4 separate regions of the Homo sapiens genome follow, and regions 1, 3 and 4 are each linked to region 2. Evidence: fine-mapped expression QTL. A gene starts in region 2. Each other region holds a variant in brackets. All regions are shown on one strand. Distances are from middle to middle.

What was found.
Region 1: its variant is fine-mapped to the expression of DECR1 in whole blood (INTERVAL, PIP above 0.99).
Region 3: its variant is fine-mapped to the expression of DECR1 in whole blood (INTERVAL, PIP above 0.99). The same link has a PIP of 0.9 or more in monocytes and neutrophils.
Region 4: its variant is fine-mapped to the expression of DECR1 in whole blood (INTERVAL, PIP above 0.99).

What each region holds. Positions count from the first base shown.
Region 1 is chr8:89,968,218-89,973,217 of GRCh38, reverse strand. NBN (nibrin) reads left to right here. Exons shown (of 16, transcript NM_002485.5): 6 at 1,928-2,045; 7 at 2,661-2,854. Among named protein-coding and RNA genes, the nearest start is that of NBN, 14 kb to the left of the region's middle. The variant T/C (reference allele first, on the strand shown) is at 2,194.
Region 2 is chr8:89,999,135-90,004,402 of GRCh38, reverse strand. It overlaps DECR1 (2,4-dienoyl-CoA reductase 1), which reads right to left and starts at 2,926. Exons shown (of 10, transcript NM_001359.2): 1 at 2,842-2,926. The coding sequence starts at 2,910. RefSeq lists enhancers at 2,300-2,439, 3,288-3,582 and a silencer at 2,910-3,009.
Region 3 is chr8:90,123,054-90,128,321 of GRCh38, reverse strand. No RefSeq gene overlaps it. Among named protein-coding and RNA genes, the nearest start is that of CALB1, 43 kb to the right of the region's middle. The variant G/A (reference allele first, on the strand shown) is at 2,313.
Region 4 is chr8:89,938,750-89,943,749 of GRCh38, reverse strand. NBN (nibrin) reads left to right here. Exons shown (of 16, transcript NM_002485.5): 14 at 384-497. Among named protein-coding and RNA genes, the nearest start is that of OSGIN2, 39 kb to the right of the region's middle. The variant G/A (reference allele first, on the strand shown) is at 2,894.

The sequences.
Region 1 (5,000 bases), 31 kb after region 2:
GAATGCCTACAGTGAAGCAGGCAAGATAGACTTGTGGATATAATGATGAGCCAAAAAAAGTTACAGTTTCTGCCCTCATGGCACTTAGTGGAGAAGCCAGCTGTTAAAGAATGACACTAATAAAGTTAGAACTCTGGTAGAGCCATTAGAGAGGCCTAACAGGCTACCATACACATATGTTTAGGAACCTGGCTCAAACTTCATCGAACTAAGCTACAGTTAGCTGCTCCCTGGCTACTGTAAACTGTTATCTATGGCATAATTAAGAATGACAGTGTGAATAATAGAAAGCTGTAGATAATTTAAAAATCATTCAACTTTAGTGTTTTGGGAAAGCAGGAAGAATCTCACATCTACTCAGTCATAGTTTTATAGTCATGTTTGACTGTAACACACAGTCATATGTGTTAAACATTTCCTTACTGTTTTTGTCTGTAACTGGCTCTGTAATCTGTCCTAGTGTTGTTACATTATTGTGTGAACTAATTGGTAAACTAGTTATTTGTATATAAGTAAAGTGTTAGTTGGCTTTTACACTAAGAAAGAAGTATAAGTTATGGGGGAATATTTATTAGGAGATAAAGGATAAAAAGGATTCAAAGAGATATTAAAATTGATCCTTTTTATGTGTCCGAATGTCTACTAACTTTCCAGTGCTCTTATTGTAGATTTAGTTTTTGTTAACAGTTAAAATAGTTTCCACTGTTCTCTGTATATTTTAAAAGTAAAATAAATAGAATTTTAAAGTCGGTTGTTTAGAAAAACCATAACTAACGCAGTTGCCTGCATTCTGTCCTGCCAAGTGAGTCTGCTCTTGCCTGCAGATAACTCATTTGAGATTGCAGCTTCCAGAAATCATTGCTTTAAAACAGACTTACAGCATCTATTGTAGTGAAATTAAAATACATGCATCAGTTATCAAAAAAATTTTAAAGTATTGTAACTCTTCAATCATAACTTAGCTTTACTTTATGAAATATGTATGTTTCCAAGGAGAAGTCCAGGGGAAAGATGTAAGGTAATTAGTTCTAAAGTGCTGGATAGTGACTCTTAATGACTGCAGTGTTTTTACCACGTTGGATGTTGATCTCTGCAGATAGTTAACTCTTGATTTGTGACTGATTGTCCAGGTTGTGAATTTCTCCCTCCCTACATTGTCCCCTTATCATCATCATCATGGGTTAGTAATTTTTACTGAAAGGAAGAGAGACAAGTCGAAATGCCGGTCAGTTATGAACAGCTGTAGCAAAAGATCTGATTATACAGGAAGTTGAAACTCTAGACTGATGAGAGGCTTAAGAATTATCTGTTGATATTTCTCCATTTCTTATTTTCCTTTATTTTCATGGATGATTAAGATGTTCTTATAGCATTAAATTAAAGAGCTAAAACATTATATTCTTTAGTCTTGTTTTGGAAATTTTATTTGAACTGAGTAAATAATGTAAGTTTAAAAATTTCCTGAACTTCTCCAAAGAGATCTCTAACAAAACACTCATAATAGATTGTGCTAGTAGAATTGAAACATGAGCGTTTTAATAGATATTGGCTCCTAAGTAAACACAAGATGCTAATAGAATTTGATCTTTATGGATGATGTTTCTCTCAAACTTTTGTAATTCAGACACCTTGTTTGAGTCATGTGTGTTTAATGTTCATCCTGTTATGATTGTCTACCTTGGATTATTTATTTTGAGATATTAATGATCAATTCTAGCTCTTCTTTGTGTCACCTGCCACCATATTTCTAGAAAACGCGATTAGATGCTTTTTGTCATTTTGTCCCAGATAAAATTCTTACTTAAAAAAAATACTATAAAGGTATTATGGAAATTATGCCTTTTGAGTGTCAGATAGTCACTCCGTTTACAATTTAATAGCAAACATAGTAGTATATAATTAGAATATACTTTAATTATTTTTACAGTTTTTACCCACCTCTTGATGAACCATCTATTGGAAGTAAAAATGTTGATCTGTCAGGACGGCAGGAAAGAAAACAAATCTTCAAAGGGAAAACATTTATATTTTTGAATGCCAAACAGGTAATTATGTTATAAGCTAAATTTTCCTAAAGAATACATTACAAACTAGGATACATTATTAACTCTTATCAGTAGTTGTTAACGTATTTCATTTTGGGATTTTGTGTAAAAGTGTGAAGTAGAATAAAAAAACCCCAGGCACCAGACC[T/C]GCCCAGTGATCATGGCTGTGATTACGGGGTTTCTTAAAATCTGTGATAACTGGCCTATTCATAAATATGCAAGTGAGAAGGACAGGAAACTTAGTTTTAACTTCTTTAGTTAGTAAGCTAAACCTCTTTAGTTAGTAAGCTCACTAAAGAAGTTAAATCAGTTGAATATGTTCTGTGTACCAAAGTGGGGTTTCCAAGAGTTTATGTTGTAGTGGAGAAATGCAGATAAGCCCACAGTTAGAGTGCTGTTAGGAAGTGTGATGAGGAACCACAGAGAGTGTAACAGTTCCAGGGCCGCAGAGACCTGTTGAACTAGGGACTTTCTCAAAGTGGAAGCTGAAATGACCTACTCAAGAAGTAGCACCAAGTCTTCTTGAATTGTACTTCTATGTTTCCCAAATCAAATTCTTATGTGTTCAAAAAATTACTACATTTTACTTTAAAAAATGTTTCCTTCCATTTTTAGCATAAGAAATTGAGTTCCGCAGTTGTCTTTGGAGGTGGGGAAGCTAGGTTGATAACAGAAGAGAATGAAGAAGAACATAATTTCTTTTTGGCTCCGGGAACGTGTGTTGTTGATACAGGAATAACAAACTCACAGACCTTAATTCCTGACTGTCAGAAGAAATGGATTCAGTCAATAATGGATATGCTCCAAAGGTATAGAATTATTCTTTATTAGTAAAAAACTGCAAGTAGGAGATTTTATGTTTAACCTTTTTTGTTGCTTTTCACCTAACAATGTAAAAGTAGATACAAGAATTTTTTTTTTTTGAGACGGAGTCTTGCTCTTGTTGCCCAGGCTGGAGTGCAGTGGCACGATCTCGGCTCACTGCAACTTCTGCCTTCTGGGTTCAAGCAATTCTCCTGCCTTAGTCTCCTGAGTAGCTGCGATTATAGGCACCCACCACCACACCCAGCTAATTTTTGTACTTTTAGTAGAGACAGGGTTTTGCCATGTAGGCCAGGCTGGTCTTGAACTCCTGACCTCAGGTGATCCTCCTGCCTCAGTCTCCCAAAGTGCTGGGATTACAGGTATGAGCCACCGTGCCTGGCCTATTTTTTATTTTTTTGAGACAGGGTCTTGCTCTGTTGTCCAGGCTGGAGTGCAGTGGCACAATCTTAGCTCACTGCAACCTCTGCCTTCTGGGTTCAAACGATCCTCTGCCTCAGCCACTCTAGTAGCTGGGACTACAGGTGTGCACCACCACACCCAGCTAATTTTTGTATTTTTAGTAGAGATGGGGTTTCAACATGTTGGCCAGCCTGGTCTCAAACTCCCATCCTGAGATGATCCACCCACCTCGGCCTCCCAAAGTGCTGGGATTACAGGCGTGAGCTACTGCGCCCGGCCGATACAAGAATTAATAAAAGGTTTTATAGTGTAGTATACTTGAAAATTAATTGTGACTTGGTATATTAGATATAGAATATCTTTATTCATGACAGTTTTACTCAAAAATATTTTATGCTTTTTTGTTACTTTAATAGAATTTGTAGAATTTACCTCTGTAAATTAACAAAGTAGTGTTAAGTTTTTTTACAGAATATGTTGCATTTGAGAAACTTAAAACTCAACGGTAAAAGGTTTTCTGCAATTGCCTAGCGTTGAAATGTATTTGCCCTTTGATGGTTATTACCCATTAGAAAGACATATAAACATTCCTATCCTTATATAGGCTATTATGGGAAAGCAGACAAAAAGTCAGATAGGTTGAAATGATGTTTGTAGAGTGGAGGGAGACTGTAAAAGAGCTAACTGAAGGATTTTTCTTAGACTTTAATTTGCATTAATAATCTTAGCATTGTTGAAGCCAGTAAGTATTGTAGAAATATATGGCTTGGCAGTCTTCTGACTAAATTGCTCTTCATGTGGCAAAAAGTAGGTGAGGACTAAAGTGTTTATATGCCTGAAAAGTCCACAGCCAGCTTCCTACCAAAGATTCATTCTTCCTGTCCCAGGAGTCCTTCTGACCATGGGGGGATTTTCTTTTTTTCTCTTACAGGCTTGCTGAAATAAAAAGTAAAATTTTAGTCATCTATCCTATAAATATTTTACTTAATTGAGATATATTAACTACTGTAAAAAAGAAGATATACTATATAACAAAAATACTATCTTATTACTACAACACAAATTTACTGTAGTTCCATTGTGTTTTAGGCACTGGAAATATAATGAAAAACAAGATAGTCACAGTCCCTGCCATCACTGGAGCTTACTGTCTAGAGGCAGAGACAGAGAAAGACAAGTAAACAAATCATTACACATGTATATAAAGGAAGCAGTAACCCGGCAGTGGGGAAGAAGCTTATTCTAAACAGAGAAGGCCTCTTTTAGGCAATGTCTTACCTATGACCAGTTTTTCAAAGAGCCAGACAAAGAATGTGCCAAGCAGAGCAACAGCAGTAATACATTAAAAAAAAAATTATCCTACATAGCAGGTTCTGGTCTAAGAATTTATGTATGTATAAACATTTAATCCTCAACCTATATATTATTTACTGTTGTGGTCCTCACTGTGCAGATGAGGGAACTGAGGCAGAAGGGGGTTTGCATATAGCAGAGGCAGTGAGCAGGGTGGCCAGGATGTGAGCCCAGGCAGTTGGATTCTGGAGTCCAGGCTCTTTACTTTCAGCACATATTGACACCCTGAGGTTAAAAAAAAGTAGCTGGAGTACCAGGTAGCTCAGACCCTGGTGCCTTGATCATGAGGTGACACTTGGCCCCTGTTACAATATGGTTTTTTGGGTTTTTGGTGGGGGGATGTTGAGACATGGTTTCACTCCAGGCTGGAGTGCAATG
Region 2 (5,268 bases):
TAAAAATAGTGATTTTACTCTTGATAGTTACTATTCTTTTTTTTTTTTTTCTTTTTGAGATAGAATCTCACTTTGTTGCCCAGGCTGGAGTGCAATGGCGTGATCTTGGCTCACTGCAACCTCTGCCTCCTAGGTTCAAGTGATTCTCCTGCCTCAGCCTCCTGAGTAGCTCCTGCCTCAGCCTCCTGAGTAGCTGGGATTACAGGCACGCGCCACCACGCCCGGCTAATTTTTATATTTTCAGTAGAGACAGGGTTTCACCATGTTGATCAGGTTGGATAGTTATTACTCTTGATAAAAACAAAAGGAAAAGAAACATGGCAGTGTGCATGATAGTAATCAAAGAATGAATCAAAAAAGGAAGAATGGTAAATTTTTTTTTTAAAGTTTCACAAAATGAACAACCTTACTACATGAGATGAATTTAGATATATCCTATTCTATTCCATTTTTTTGTTTTTGAGATGGAGTCTCACTCACTCTATCGCCAGGTTGGACTACAGTGGCGCGACCTCAGCTCACTGCAACCTCTGCCTCCCAGGTTAAAGCGATTCTCCTGCCTCAGCCTCCCAAGTAGCTGGGACTACAGGCGTGTGAAACCACACCCAGTAATTTTTGTATTTTTACTAGAGACAGGGTTTCACCATGTTGGCCAGGATAGTCTTGATCTCTTGATCTAATGATCCACCCGCCTCAGCCTCCCAAAGTGCTGTTTTGCTCCACTAAATTGATTTCAAGGCCTACTCATTGGTTATTATTTGTGGCTTAAAATACATATATGAGACTATAGTACATTGAAGGCAGGAATGTCTTTCAACCACAAATTGCCAAAGAATGCCCAATACTTAATAGGTACTTAATTAATTAGTGTTTCCTCATAAACAACTGAATGACTGAATGTTTTCCTCAATAGAACTGAGAGCAACTTGAGAACAGTTGAGAGCAGGGCTCGTATTTTTTAAATTTTGAGTCCCAGGGCATAGCACAGGGCCAGACATAAAGCCAGTCCTCAATAAATATTTATTAAATTGAAATGAGGCCTATTAGCCAGCAGCACAATTTAACACAGCACTTCACAAACAGGTTTTATAACAAATTAAACATTTGCCTTGGTTCTTGGTAACAAAAATATTCAAATTAGGGGTTTTAATTATAACAACTTGTATTTGCCCACAAAAACATGATGTTCCCTGGAACAACCTCCCACATCACAGATGTAAAGACTTTTCTTCTCCCAGGAATTCAAACTTGAGGCTACATGTGCTAGGAAGGGGACAAACCACACTAACAGGTACCTCTCTTGCCTCCCAACCCTGAACCTCAAAACTTCCATATTTTTCTTCAGCAAAGGAATTTCAAAATTGTCAGATTACAATTAATTTTTAAATGAGTTCATTTTCTCCTTCTCAAACTGTATTGTCTAATGGTGTCAGAAGAGCTTGGATAAGGTCTGTATGACCTTATTGCTACAATCCTAATGATGTGTGTTAAAAAATGAAATCTCTGAAGACATCACAGAGCTGTTGTAGATTTCAAATGAGAAATGTCTCTGAAAAGTATCAGAAAATATGGGCTTCCTTTATAATGATCTATAACCCAGTTTTCACAGGGAGAGAAAAAAAATCAGCAAAACCCTAACCCTGAACAAATCTCACTTTTTAAAAGAAAGATACCTTACTTGAGGGAACCACCATACTAATTCTTTGTATTCCTATTTGGAACTACTGCTGCCCATATTTTTTGAAAAACAACACCATGGCTGTCTATTCTATCAAATCAAAAGAAGTTTTTTCACAGTTGACATATTAATTTTTCTACCTGGCTAAAGAAAATGTGCTTTTTAGTTTACTTATAACAATTTTGTAATTTAGATGTGGGGAGGGCTTGTCTTGGATATTATTGCTTCTTTTTGTTTTTGTTTCTCTTTCTTCTTCCTAGCTGTTTTCACTTCCTAGCTATTTCCACTATGGGTGCAATGGAGATGGTGACAGGAGTGTGGGCCAGAGAGAGGGGGAAGCCAGTGTGAGACGGACCTCTCCCAGCTATACATCTGGGAAGGGGAGTCTATAAACAGCTGGGGTTTTGTTTTTGTTTCATTTTTATGATAATTTGTTTGTATTAGTGTTTAATTCCATAACTAACACATAGATGGACTTTCCTCACAACAAAGGACGTCAAAGGTCAGTGCTCGCTCGGCCTGATCCCCTCTCACTCCTTAAGGGGTGGACGGGCGCCGTATCCTTCCCTACCTCTTTCTACCTATTTACACACAAGTTGGAAACTTGCAGAACTGTGAAAACTTCGAAAATCACGTCTCTTCCCTATTCCCCTACACACATCAGGGCTTCATCTGACAGTGGAATACGACCCGGGCCCCGGTGCTCACTCCCGGCGTTGCCCTTCGCTCCGGGACCTGGTGGTCCTCTCTCTCTGCGCCCCAAAACGCCCTGTCCTAGCTCCCTGAGCCCCAGGGACGCCGGGTCCTCTCTTTGTGCCCCAAGACTTCCTGCCCTTTCTCTTGCGCCCCGAGACGTCCTGTCCTCTCTCTCGCTCCCCGGGTTGCTCTGTGCTCTCTTAGCGCTCCAGAACGCCCTGTCCTCTCTCTTTGAGCCCCGGGACACCCTGTCCTCGCTCCCCGAGGCCCCGGGACGCCCTGTCCTCTCTCTCTCTGCGCCTCGGGATGCCCTGTCCTCGCTCCCCGAACCCCCGGGACGCCCTGTCCTCTCTCTTTGCGCCCCAGGATGCCTTGTCCTCGCTCCCCGAGCCCCCGTGACGCCCTGTCCTCTCTCTTTGCGCGTCGAGACGCCCTGTCCTCGCTCCCCGCGCCCCCGGCCGCCTTACCCTCCGAGGAGCGAGGCCACAGGGCAGCCGGGACCCCAGAGTAAAGAAAACCCTGGCCGGTAGCTTCATGTTGAGTCTCCAGAACTCGGGCCGGAAGGCGGCGCAGGCGGTTGGGCGCAGGGGGCGGGACAAAAAGAACAAAGTTCTCGGGGCTGGAAACGCTGCCTAGGCCGCCGGGGGATGGGACGGGGACTGGGACCCAGGCGGCGTGGACGCCCAGCGGCCCTGACCTTCAGAGTCCGGCCGAGGGCGCCGCCTAGCTGGGCCTAGCTGATGCTCTTTCCTGCTCTCTGGGCCAGGAGTGCTTTGTATGGCAGAGAATGGAGGTTCTTTGCGTCCTTGAGCGGGTGTACGAAACCCCGCGCCCTGCAAGGGTTTGCAGATTGCAGCTGCGCACCCCATACACTGCCTATCAAGGGCGAAACTCTTTTTCAGTCGTATGTGTTTATCCCTTAAGTGCGTGTTTAAGTGCAGAGTGCGCGTGGCGCCAAGTCACATATTATCAGAATAATAATATGTTGGATGTAAAACACGGCCTCACTTTCCCTAAGACCAAGAGGCTGAAAAACACTAAGGGCAGCTTCCGGCGTTTTGACTTTTCGCAGGACACACCGCCCCCTGTCGCCGGATGCAGCGTGACTGCGACCGCCCAGCCTTGGCTTTTTTCTCGAAGTTAAACACACGTTAAAGGCAAACACAGATTCAGTATATCATTCTCCATCTTAGTGTAATATACCTGTTGACACAAGGCATTAGCTCAGATCACATTTCTTTCCTCATTCGTAAAATGAGAATATTCATAGCTAATTCAGAATTTTAGATAAAAGAAGATGGGTGTGAGGCCCCAGGCTGAGGCTGATGGTAGATGATATTGAGTGTTTACTATTTGCCTGGCATGTTCCAAATGCTGATAAAGAAACATTTATATCTTCAGAGGAATGTACACTTACATGTAGACATATAGCTTATAAGGTATATAAACTCTGAAAAACTTTGTAATTTTGAGTTGGTCTGGTGATAATTTCCAGGCCTTCTGCCTGTAACTGGTTACAGAAATAAAAACTTTCTTCATCCCCAGTTCATCGACATCTCATTATTGGCAGCAAGAAATAGCAGCCTGACCCTCAGTTTGGTCCAGGAACAAAACTACCACAGATTGGGTGGCTTAAATGGAAATTTGTTTTCTCACAATTCTGGAGGCCACAAGTCAGCAGAGTTGGTTTCTTGTGGAGCCACTGTGGGACCATCTTCTCCCTGTGTCTTTACATGATCCTCCTGTGTACCTTTCCATATCTAAATTGCCTCTTCTTATGAGGACACCAGTCGTGTTGGATTAAGGCCCACCCTCAATGACCTAATTTAACTGGAATTACCTCCCTAAAGACTCTATCTCCAAATATAGCCACATTCTGACATACTGGGGGTTAAGAGTTCAATGTATATATTTGGCTGGGAGAAGAGGGAAGTACACAATTCAGCCCAGAACACTTGCCCTCTTAAATAACTTTTAGACCAGCTTAGGAGGCATTTTCTGTCCTCCCAAAAAAACCTTGAGAATATATCAATAATAAAACTTTTCCTAAGCTCTTGATATATGTATGGCACTGTTATTCTTGACTTCCAAACCAAATTGTAAGTGGGATTCATCTTGTTTCTAAAAAGAAGTTGCAACATTAGTGATACGGTTTGGATTTGTGTCCCTACCCAAATCTCATGTTGAATTGTAATCTCCAGTGTTGGAATTGGGGCCTGGTAGGAGGTGATTGGATCACGGGGACAGATTTCTTCCTTTGGTGCTATTCTCCTGATAGAGTTCTCAGGAGATCTGGTTGTTTAAAAGTGTGTGGCACCTCCCACCCTCTCTCTTCCTCCTGCTCCAGCTGTGTAAGACAGCCTGCTTCCCCTTCATCTTCCACCATGATTGTAAGTTTCCTGAGGCCTCTCAAGTCATGCTTCCTATATAGCCTGCAGAACTGTGAGTCAATTAAACTTCGTTTCTTTATAAATTACTCAGTATGAGGTATTTCTTTATAGCATTGTGAGAATGGAGTAACACAATAAGTAACTTAAAACAATTAATCATTTATTATCTCACAGTTCCCAGGAGTTAGGAGTCTAGGCACAGCTTAGCTGGATCCTTGGCTCTGGGTCTCAGAAGACTGCAATCAAGGTGTCAACTAGGCTGTTTTTATCTGGAGGCTCAGCTGGAGAAGATCTGATCCCAAGCTCATCCAGATTGTTTGCAGAATTATTTTCCTCATAACCATATAACTGACAGCCCCACATTTTTGCTGGATGTTGGCTGGAGTTGCCTTCAGCTTCTAGAAGTCACCTCCATCCCTTCCCATGTGGGCTTCCTCAGCAGACTGCTTACTACATCAAGCCAGCAAGGACAATTCTGTACCTCAGGGAGGCCCCAGCCCATCT
Region 3 (5,268 bases), 120 kb before region 2:
AGCTGTATTTTTAAAAAAAAAACACATTTTGTATATTAAACAGATAGGAATAATCTTCACTTTTGGAAAGAAATATGCTCTCTGCCATATGCTCTCCTCTTAGATTATTATTTGTTTTCTCTCTTTGATAAGGTATTTGTAAAAGAAATCATCTTTCTTTCTGCAAAAGAACATGACAATACAAATGCAATAATATATGGCAACTGAAATTCAGTCTCTTTATTAGGAGGGCAAAAAGGAAACTACATTCACTCTGCTACTGAATTTGAGCCTAGTGACGTCAGATCTTCTGATTCTCCAATGAAAGGCAAAACCTGAATTTTCTATAAAACCACCCAACTTTTACAGGTTCAGAACAAATTCCTATAATGTTTAAAATATTGTTCAGTCTAAACAAAAGTCAGAACAACATTCTGGCTTATGGTGGGTCATGTTTTTACATCACATAAATTCAGTCCCTTGTCCAACTTCCCTACATCTCACCTCAGATTGGGCTGCAGAGCCTGATTTCATAAATTCTTAAGTACATCAGTTATGTGTGGCCACTATCCATTGAAAGTACTGCTTGACATTCAAAGAAATAGTGAAAAAATGAATTTATCCAATAACTTATCAATGTTACATTAACATACTATCATCAGCATACATTGAAATATTTCAATGTGTTAAAGGAATTTTAATCAAGAACAATATGTCAATCATGGCCTATATAACCTGACTCACAAATTAATAGAATAAAGATCAAAACATTATTCTTATCCATTAAAACAAATAATAATTTTTTTCATCACATAGCCAAAAACAGTCTGAAGAGAGTTTGTTTTACAAATCCTACACAATAGTTTTTACAAATCCAGATACATGCATAAAAAATATCAGACTATTTCATTCCATGAGAAACAATGTGCAAGGATTGGCTTTCTGACATTCTTCTCCAAATAGGGAGACAAACTAGCAAATAAATTATTGAATCACAATGAACTATCTGCATGGTCTTCAAATTCAACTATCATTTAACATGTAAACATTCAGGACCAATAAGGCCCAGGAGATAAAGCCTTAAGGAAAGGCCAGGTATTCAGCTTGGAGAACCCAAGTAAGAGTAAAAAAGAGTAAAAAAATAAATTTGATAAAATATTATAAATATATGAAAAATGTTTTACACACATACACACACACACACAGTTTGTCTCCAAAAGACAGAACATATTATGTACTGTATTTAAAAAAAAAAAAGGTCTTGAAAGTTACATTTTCTGTTAGCTACCAGGATCCAAGAATATCTTCTCTTAAATTCAGAAAGAGCCTTATATATCATTAAACATTTAGTCTCAAGGTCGACATTATGTCATACAAAAAAAACTGACCAAATGTGACCATCCCTTTCTTCTAAGACAAGATTTTATCCTGGGATACATTGACAGACATCCTGAATTCCTGAAGTCCCTGAAAGTATGGATAAAATTTTGTGTGTATGTAAATTTTTCTAAGAACAGAGCTTACAGTTTCCATGAATTTTTTTTAAAAATAACTGAAAACATCCCATTGGTTTTAAATCATTATTGTGCTAGGAGCTGTAATGAAAGAAAAAATTTGATCAGTATTTCTGATTAAGAACCTAAGATAGCCAAACCTTATTTAAAAAATAGCTTTCAAGTAAGTCATTAATAATTATTTGGCTGGGTCCTCATTAAATATGCAGTAAAGAATTAGGGCTGCTCAATAAATTCATTAGAAAAAGTAGTGAAGTATTGAAAAAATATATGGATTGAGGAGCCAGACAGACCTATGTTCTATCCAAGTTCTGCCTCTAATTAACTACATGACAAACAAGGTACTTAAACATTCTGAGCCACTATTTCTCCCTCTGTCAAAGGTAATAATTCCTACCTCAACAATGACTACCTTACAGAGTTTCAGAAGAATTAAAAATTCTAACAGTTCCTGTGCCCAGTAGTAATTCAATAACAGTAAGTTTCCTTTCTCTTTTCTTTCCTACTGATTACCTAAAATATCTACTACATTCATTCGTGGTAACTGTGAAGGCCAAATCTAGGTAACTTGTAAAAGTGGCTACAGGATGTAAAAACACCTCAACAATATCCACCAAAATAAACAAAGGGAACCTAATATTCTTTCAACAATGCTAAAGCCAAGAAAGGCCCCATTCATGTGACAACTCTAAAAACTATTAACAAAGAGCAATAAATATTTGACCGAACCTAGAGAGTAAACTGTCACTTATAAGCCTAAGGCTGAGTCACAAAAGGGAAATGGAAAACATTTTCAAGGGTAGTATTCCCTAGCTGATG[G/A]AAGAGACTGCAGAAAAAAATTATGAAGTCAAGAGAGTACTTTTCCTGACCAAAACTGGCTTTGGGATGCAACTGGAGAGACTAAATTGAAGGATTTCAGGACACCCACCAGGGCCCCTTAGATAAAGGGTGTGGCCACAGTGTTTGCACTCAGGGGTCCCTTGGTATGGACAGCACACAAAATAAAGTGGAGTTTTGCCACCTGAAAATATCCACAACTACTCTTGAAGTGGGCAAGTGTAAGATGAGGCCGAGGGCAAAAATTAGACTACATTGTCTCCCAATGCCCACAAGAGAAAAAGCTGCCATTAATCTGTATGGAAGTGAGAAAATAAAGATCATTGCCCTTACATATGTATACCGCCAGATTTCTATTTAAGACTGTACTTTATATTTTCCTACTTCAGAGAAATTAAGATGTTCTTTCTTTTATAAATCTGTGATAATAGTAGATAGAAGCTTCTCAATTAACTTATACTGCAAATTTAAAAATTGACAATATTATGTCTGCACAATTTTAAAAAATCTTATTCTCTTTGAAAACACACAGTCTATAACTACTAATCCACATAGCTGCCAAGGGACAGCATGCCTGCCAACATTTATTATCAATTAATCTAAATTCATCGTTTTAATCATTATTAATAATGACCAGACAACAGAAGTTTCCCAAAAATGTGGGGGGAAAATACAGAAGGCAAAAAAAGAAATTGACCACACTGGGTGATCAGAAGAAATAACTACTAGTGAATATGCTAATTCTGGAAACAGGACAGAACTTTAAAAAAGTTCTAATTAGAATTCTCAATGAGATTTGAAAAAAATAATATTGCTTTTTTGAGAGTAAACTGCTACAAAAGAGCGCAAAAGGAGAACACTTTTTAATAATTAGAAAATTGATTGACAGATTAGATAAATCAATAGAAGCAATGATTAGCAGAAAGAGTATTGCTCTGAAAACCAAGTTTATGAATCAAAACTTGAGAAATTCTTCAAGAAAAGGATTATGATCCTAGAATTATGTATGATATGTCAAACTATCACTCTTGAGTGAAAGTGAACATTTACTCAAGAAACGAATGAATGAATTATAAGTACAAAGCATTACAAACCTATTAAAATTGTGAAAGCTGGTAGCAGATGTTGTTTCTCCCCTATGTGGGCCTGACTTCAACTGAAATTAAAAAAAAAAAAAATTAATGCTATCTTTCTCTGCCAGAGCCCATTCAGACTACAGATGAAGCAGGCCCTACCCCTGGTAGCCTTCAACAAGTTAAATAATAAGAGAAGGTCCGTAAATCCACCAGCTCTCTCATTCTTTGGACAGTATAACTCTGAAATGTGTTTTCTACACTGGCTCCCACAACTGTCCCAGAGTGATTAAGCTGCAGTTGCTCAAAATGACAAATGCTTGCTAACGCATCCTTTACTGGCTTTCCTACCTTCTCTTTACCAATTCCCCATGCCGCTACCTACACTTCCTAGAAATGACTTGCCCTTGAAATCCTGCAAGCCAAGCTGAGATTACACTTCTGCTCCAAACAATTAGTCAAAATTTATAAGAAAAAACTATAATCAATGCAAGAAAGAAAACCACAAGCACAACTGGAAATTTTGGCAGACCTCCCTGAGAATTTGATAGAGAAAGGAGATGTGAGTAACAAATGGCAAGTTTGATATAATGACTTGAATAAAGGAGAATATTATCAAAGATCTGCCTTTCCCATACAGCAGCAAACCAAGAAGACTTCATTAATTTTATGAAACTACTATAACCTTAATTCTAAAAACTAGTCAAATTTGCATGTCTACGTGTAAGCATGCACTCACACACTAACTATAAAGTGATATCATTTGAGAGTGCAATGAAAATCATTCTAATGAAAATGCTAGAAAATCAAATCCAAAATTATATCAAAAACCTATTACCACATGACCAAGCTGACTTTATTCCAAGAAAACAAGGATTACACAATTTAGGAAATCTAATACTTTAGTTTGTTATATTGATATGTCAATAGATTAAAACCATACATTTGTTTCTATAGATGATAGAAAGTCATAAAATATATCTATCCCTGTATTATGAATAGAGCTTCCTTAAAGTGATTCAGACTAACAGAAAAAAGAAAGCATCATCATCTCTAATGGTGAAAATGAGGCACTTCTATTCAAGTCAAAGAGAAAACGAGAATATTTGCTGTCACTTCCATTACCTGACATTGCTCTGAAGTTTCCAGTCAACACAATGAGTCAAGAAAAAGAAGAGAGGTAAATATAGGAAAGCAAGCAAGCAAATTATCAGGATTTGCAAATGATATAATTATCTATCCAAGAAAATTGAGAGCACCAAATGAAGAACTTAGCAATAACAAAGCGTAGTAGATGACTAAATTACAATATTAGTACACAAAATTAGTAAATCCCGTTAGCAATAATCAGATGTTTGAATGGAACAGCCCTATTCATAGTCCTATAAAAAATAAAAACTATATTATTCCTAAACATGAACCTAAAAAAAAACTATACCACTATAAAATCTCTGTGAAGAACACTATAAAAGTTTACTGAAGGGCATAAAAAGACTTTCTAAATAAAGTTCATGACATACGGATTCTTAGATGGGAAGACTCAATTTTGTAAAGATGTCAGTTTTTTCCAACATAATTTATAAATTTAATGCACTGTAGTTCCCTATAGAAATAATGGGGAGAATGGAACTTACCAAACTGATTATTAATTTCCTAAGGAAGAATGTATTTGTGAGAATGACCAAGACACTGTAGACAAAGAAAAATAAGTGAGAATTTGTTCTACTGAACAGCAAGATTTATAAAAAGCTATAGTGATTAAAACAATATGTCATTGGCACAGAAAAAGACAAATAGATGTAAAAGATAAAATAGAGATCCATAAATGTATGAAAACCTTTGTATTATAAATGTGGCACTTCAAA
Region 4 (5,000 bases), 61 kb after region 2:
ATTAGAAAGGGCTTAAGCTTTGAAGTCATTAGAACAAAATACAGTGCTTTGAATTGTAGTGTTTGTGTTCATCTTGAGTTGCTTTAATTGTTAAATGATAAGGTAAGGCCATTTTAAAATAAAAACTCCAAATGAAAAGTGTTAAATTATTTTTAATACATAAATCCCATGACATGTCCAGATCTGTATATAGTAATAGCTATAAAAGAAGGGCAAAAACAGATGGGTTTAGAACAGAGTTACTGCTCTCACTTTTATTTGTAGAATATAAACATCTTTGGCACTTATGCATGATTTACCATCTTTGCTTTTTAATCTTTTTAAAAAAATGGTCATTTTTGTTTGTTAATATGATTTACTGTACTACTTTTATTATTCAATAGGTCACATATCCTGGAGCAGGAAAACTTCCACACATCATTGGAGGATCAGATCTAATAGCTCATCATGCTCGAAAGAATACAGAACTAGAAGAGTGGCTAAGGCAGGAAATGGAGGTTAGTAGGAAGTGAGGCCCAGAAACTTGCTTAAATTGCACTTTGGTCCATTATGGTGGCCTTCAAGCAAATTCTTCTTAAAACCAAATTAAAATAAGTGACATAAAGTCATTCATTCAGGAGCATTCCTGAGTTACAGAGCATTAATCTATACCCTTCCATAACACTTCTTTAAAAGAATACTAAATTTATTTTTGTTAAAAAAAAAAAAAAAGGTGAGACCTAAGAAATTCAGTTTACATCCTAATGAAAAGGGGGAGATAAAAGCCACAAAAATTTAAGGGAAACTAAAAGAATGTGGAGGATATTACAAATATATCACTTAAATGTATGTCAAGGGACTGGCCTTTTTAAATCTGGGGATTGTGTTTTAACAATTCTGAAAATTTCTTATTCATTCTCTTGAATATTAGTTACCTTTTTACTGTTTTCCCCATTATCTCCTTCTGGAATTCCAACTTAACGTAAGTTAAATTTTCTTTTCCATTTGTCTTTCCTGTGTATTTCATTTCTTTGTTTCCCTGGGTTATATTTTTGGCAACTGCTGCAGATCATCTTCCGATTTACTACTACTGTCTTCAACTCTAGTTGGCATTGCATCCGTTCATTTATTTTTTCATTACTGGAAGTCTGTTTTATTTCTTTCTAAATCTTCTTGTTCCTTGCTGTTTTTCAAGCTTCCCCTTTTATATTATTTGCCTAATGATACCATTACCTAAAATGTTTGATCTGTTTTCTGCTCTTATGTACCTTGTTTTCAAGTTTGTGCTTTGTGATTTTTGAATATGAGCTGATTGTTTTCTTTGTAACTCGATCTGTAGGGTTTTCTTGAGTATTAAGTTCAGATGTATTTCCTCTAGAAAAGATACGTTTTCTATCTTCGAGTCTTCTACCAATATGAGACCACTTCAAATTAAAATCTCTCCTTGTGATTCTTTGAATCACCCAGACAGTTAGTATGTATTAATATTTGGACCAGAAGCTGGAGTGAATGAAGGCTGGCTTATCATTAGAAACTTCAAATGAGATTTTTATTTATTTCCTTCACTAAGTGCCAGAATGAAGATGGGCAAGTTTCTTTCCTAGCTCCTTCTGTGTTGTAAGGTTTATTTCTCTTTCTTCTTTTAGTGCTGGGTCTTTTATTAAAGTCAACATCTTGGGTTTTCTTTCGTATCACTCATACCCCGTATAGACATTAAAGCAGAGTTCAGGTTTTTCATGACTTGCAGATACTCATAGGGCAAGGCAAAAGCTGACTGTGGTCCTTGCTAACCTCTCAGGGTTCCTTATTTTGCTTTATAGTGGGTATAGTGTAATTCACTTTTAAAAGTGCTTTTTTCTCAGTTATTTTAAAATAAGGGTTATTTAGGAAAGTCACTTATGAAAGTAGAGTTGTTAAGGTCACTCAGGATACTTATTTTTAAAAAATGAAAGAATGGAAATCACATCCTTTCTCCTTTTCTTTTTTGAAAGAATAATTGGCTTATTTTGTAACATGTGCATTCCACAGAATTATGGCAGTACACAAAGAATGAAGATGTGAAAACCTAAAGCCCAGAAATTACCTATTTAAACAGTTAAGTGAACAATATTCCAGACATCTCTTCATTGAGGAGTAGTGAGAGGCAGGGACAGACTGGGAAGGAAGAGAGAGACATTGATAGGAGGAAGTTAAACTGAAGGCATTGCTGAATTTCTATAAATGTTTCTTCCCTCCAAGATATTTTATTTTGTGAGATCTGTCTAATATTAAGGAGGAAAACTATAAAAATCACTGTAAGTCGGAATGGGTAGTTTTAAACTTCATATTAACTTCACATACAATTATTTGTTGGCTCGCTACAGTGAAAAGTGAGGACATTATTAGTACTTCCTCCCACCTAGCCTCCCTTACCTTATGCCAGTCCTGTTTTTCCCTTTTTAGGTGACTTGCATGCATGACCAGTCATCTTTCTTAAGCTCGAAAGCCAGTAACACTCAGAATACATCTCAGTGTTGATCATTCTCCATTAGTTTTTCCTGACATATAGTATGCTGTTTTGATTTGCAGGTGTAATTCTCTTTCTCAAGGAACTTTTTTCTATTATATATTTTAAATATTTTATATTTGCTGGGCTCTCTATAAGACATTTAAGACATAACTATCCTTTCATTGGATTACCTTTGTCGTCCACATCTATTTTTTCTGCATTCACTGTGGTTTTCTTAGGCTCTTTCACTGTATCAAAATTTTACATTTCAGGTGTGTCTATAATGTTTCTCACCAAGTATGTGACCTTAGGCAAATTACTTAATGTCTCTGCTTCCATCTGTGCAGAATGAGAATAATAATAGTACCTTTATTTCACAGACATATGAGGATTAAATCAGATACTACATATAAATCATTTATAACA[G/A]TGGGAAGTGTTAGCTATTTCTAATTTAATTCTGAAAGGCTGTTATTATGGTTCTTTTACTTAGCATTTGTTCTTTTTTCATTTCATTGTTCTATTATCTGATTTTTTGTCATTATTTCATTGCTTTCATGTTTCTATTTTACTTTTTATTCGTGGATTATTATTTCCTGCAGATTAGGTTCTTTATCTGTTTTTTGCATGTTCTGTTCCAATATCCCTTTTTTTTTTTTTCCTCTAGTAGATGGAGTAGCTTTTCTGTTTTTTGCCTTCACTTGAGTAAAGGGAAATGTCTTTTCCAGATATTCTGTTTGCTACATAAAGGATCATATGCCATCTCATGCAGGGATTACATTCAGAAGCCAGTTTGTGAGACAGAAATTCAGTATAATCAAAATTACTTCTAACATTCTTGTCTTGCCCATAAGAACAGAATTCAGCCAGGCACAATGGTGTGGCTCATGACTATAACCCCAGCACTTTGGGAGCAGGAGGATCACTTGAACCCGGGAGTTAAGAGTAGCCTGCACAACATCTTGAGACCCTGTCTCTACAAAAAAATAAATAAATGAAAATTAAACAAACAAACAAAAAAACACAACAAATTAGCGGGTCATGGTAGTGCATGTGCCCATAGTCCCAGCTACTCAGGAGGCTGAGGTGGGAAGATTGCTTGAGCCTGGGAGGTTAAGGTTGCAGTGAGCCATGATTGAGCCCCTGCACTTCAGCCTTGGTGACAGAGCAAGGCCACATCTCAAAAATAATAATAATAAATAAAATAAAAATTAAAGAACAGAATTCCCTCATGCCTCACTGTCAGTATGGCATTATGCTGAAACAGTCAGTGGCACATGGCATATCCCATCTAGTTTCTGTTGTCTGAAGACATTGAATCTGGGAGAGGAAAGGCTCAGCTGGAGCTGTGTGCAGCTTGGGCTAGCTGTCTCCTGGGATTTTAATTAAATGTCCTATACCAGGGAGTGTGCCCTATATAAAAGAGAATAACCTAGCATTATTAGGTTGTTTACCTAATTTGTTAGGGATCCTTGGAGCCTATGTGTTTGGTCAGTGTCAGCCCTGCTTCTTTACCTTCTACACCATTAGTCCCTTCCCAGCAGCCCACTGGCAGTTGTTTTCCCTGTTCAGGTTACCTTTTCCCCAAATTTGGGGCATTAGTAAGAATCCTCAGGTTTGACCAGTTGTGTAGCACTTTTAATGGATTGAGACAGTATTAGGAATCAGCTGCATCAGAATCATTTGGTTCTTTTTACAGCTGCACTTTTTAAGCGTATGGCATGGCTTAAACTCTTCTCCTTGATTAATTAACACTGTCGAGTTTTGTTTGATTAATTTTAGATGGGAGAAGTTGAGAGAATGATGATACATCATACAGCTGCTGACTTTTTTCTATTTTTTTTTTGCTTATTTCATTAGGAATTAGATGGACTGTGTTCTAGATGATTTCACCAAATCACTTCTCTTTTTGCTAGAATCATTTTAGTTGCTATTGGTAGGACTTACTCTATAACAGACTTGACTTGCTTTTGCTGCATGGCTACTGCTTATTTATGTAAATGTTCTGTACTGCCATCTCATTTCCCTGTTTGCTGCAGCTATTCTTTTTCTATATTCCCTCCCTATTTTTCTTTTTCATCCCTTCTTTCTCTACCTCTGCTGCAGACCCACCAGTCTTGATTTTCATAATCACTGCGTCAGTTCCTGAAGTTCCCTTGAATTTAGGATATTTTCATTGTGTACATCAAACATAAAAATTATTTGAACTGTATCCAACCTGATTTGAATTTGAAAGACTGTGAGTAGTAGTTATCTCAGACCTCTGAAAAATGCCAGTAATATGAGGCATTTCTGTTTCTTAATACTATTTTATATGTTTTTACTGAAATATATGAAATAAAACTGCTTTCTCCTCAGTGGTTTTTCCTTACTATGCTACAACTTTATTCCCCAGGCAACCTCTAAGAATGTTTAGAAAAATGTTGCCAGTAGTTATTTTGACAGCTGTTTTATTAAAATGATGTCTTCCCATTTATGTTTTGCTATCCCTATTAGAAAATATGAAAAGATAAGATGTAATTTTGTTTCACTATAT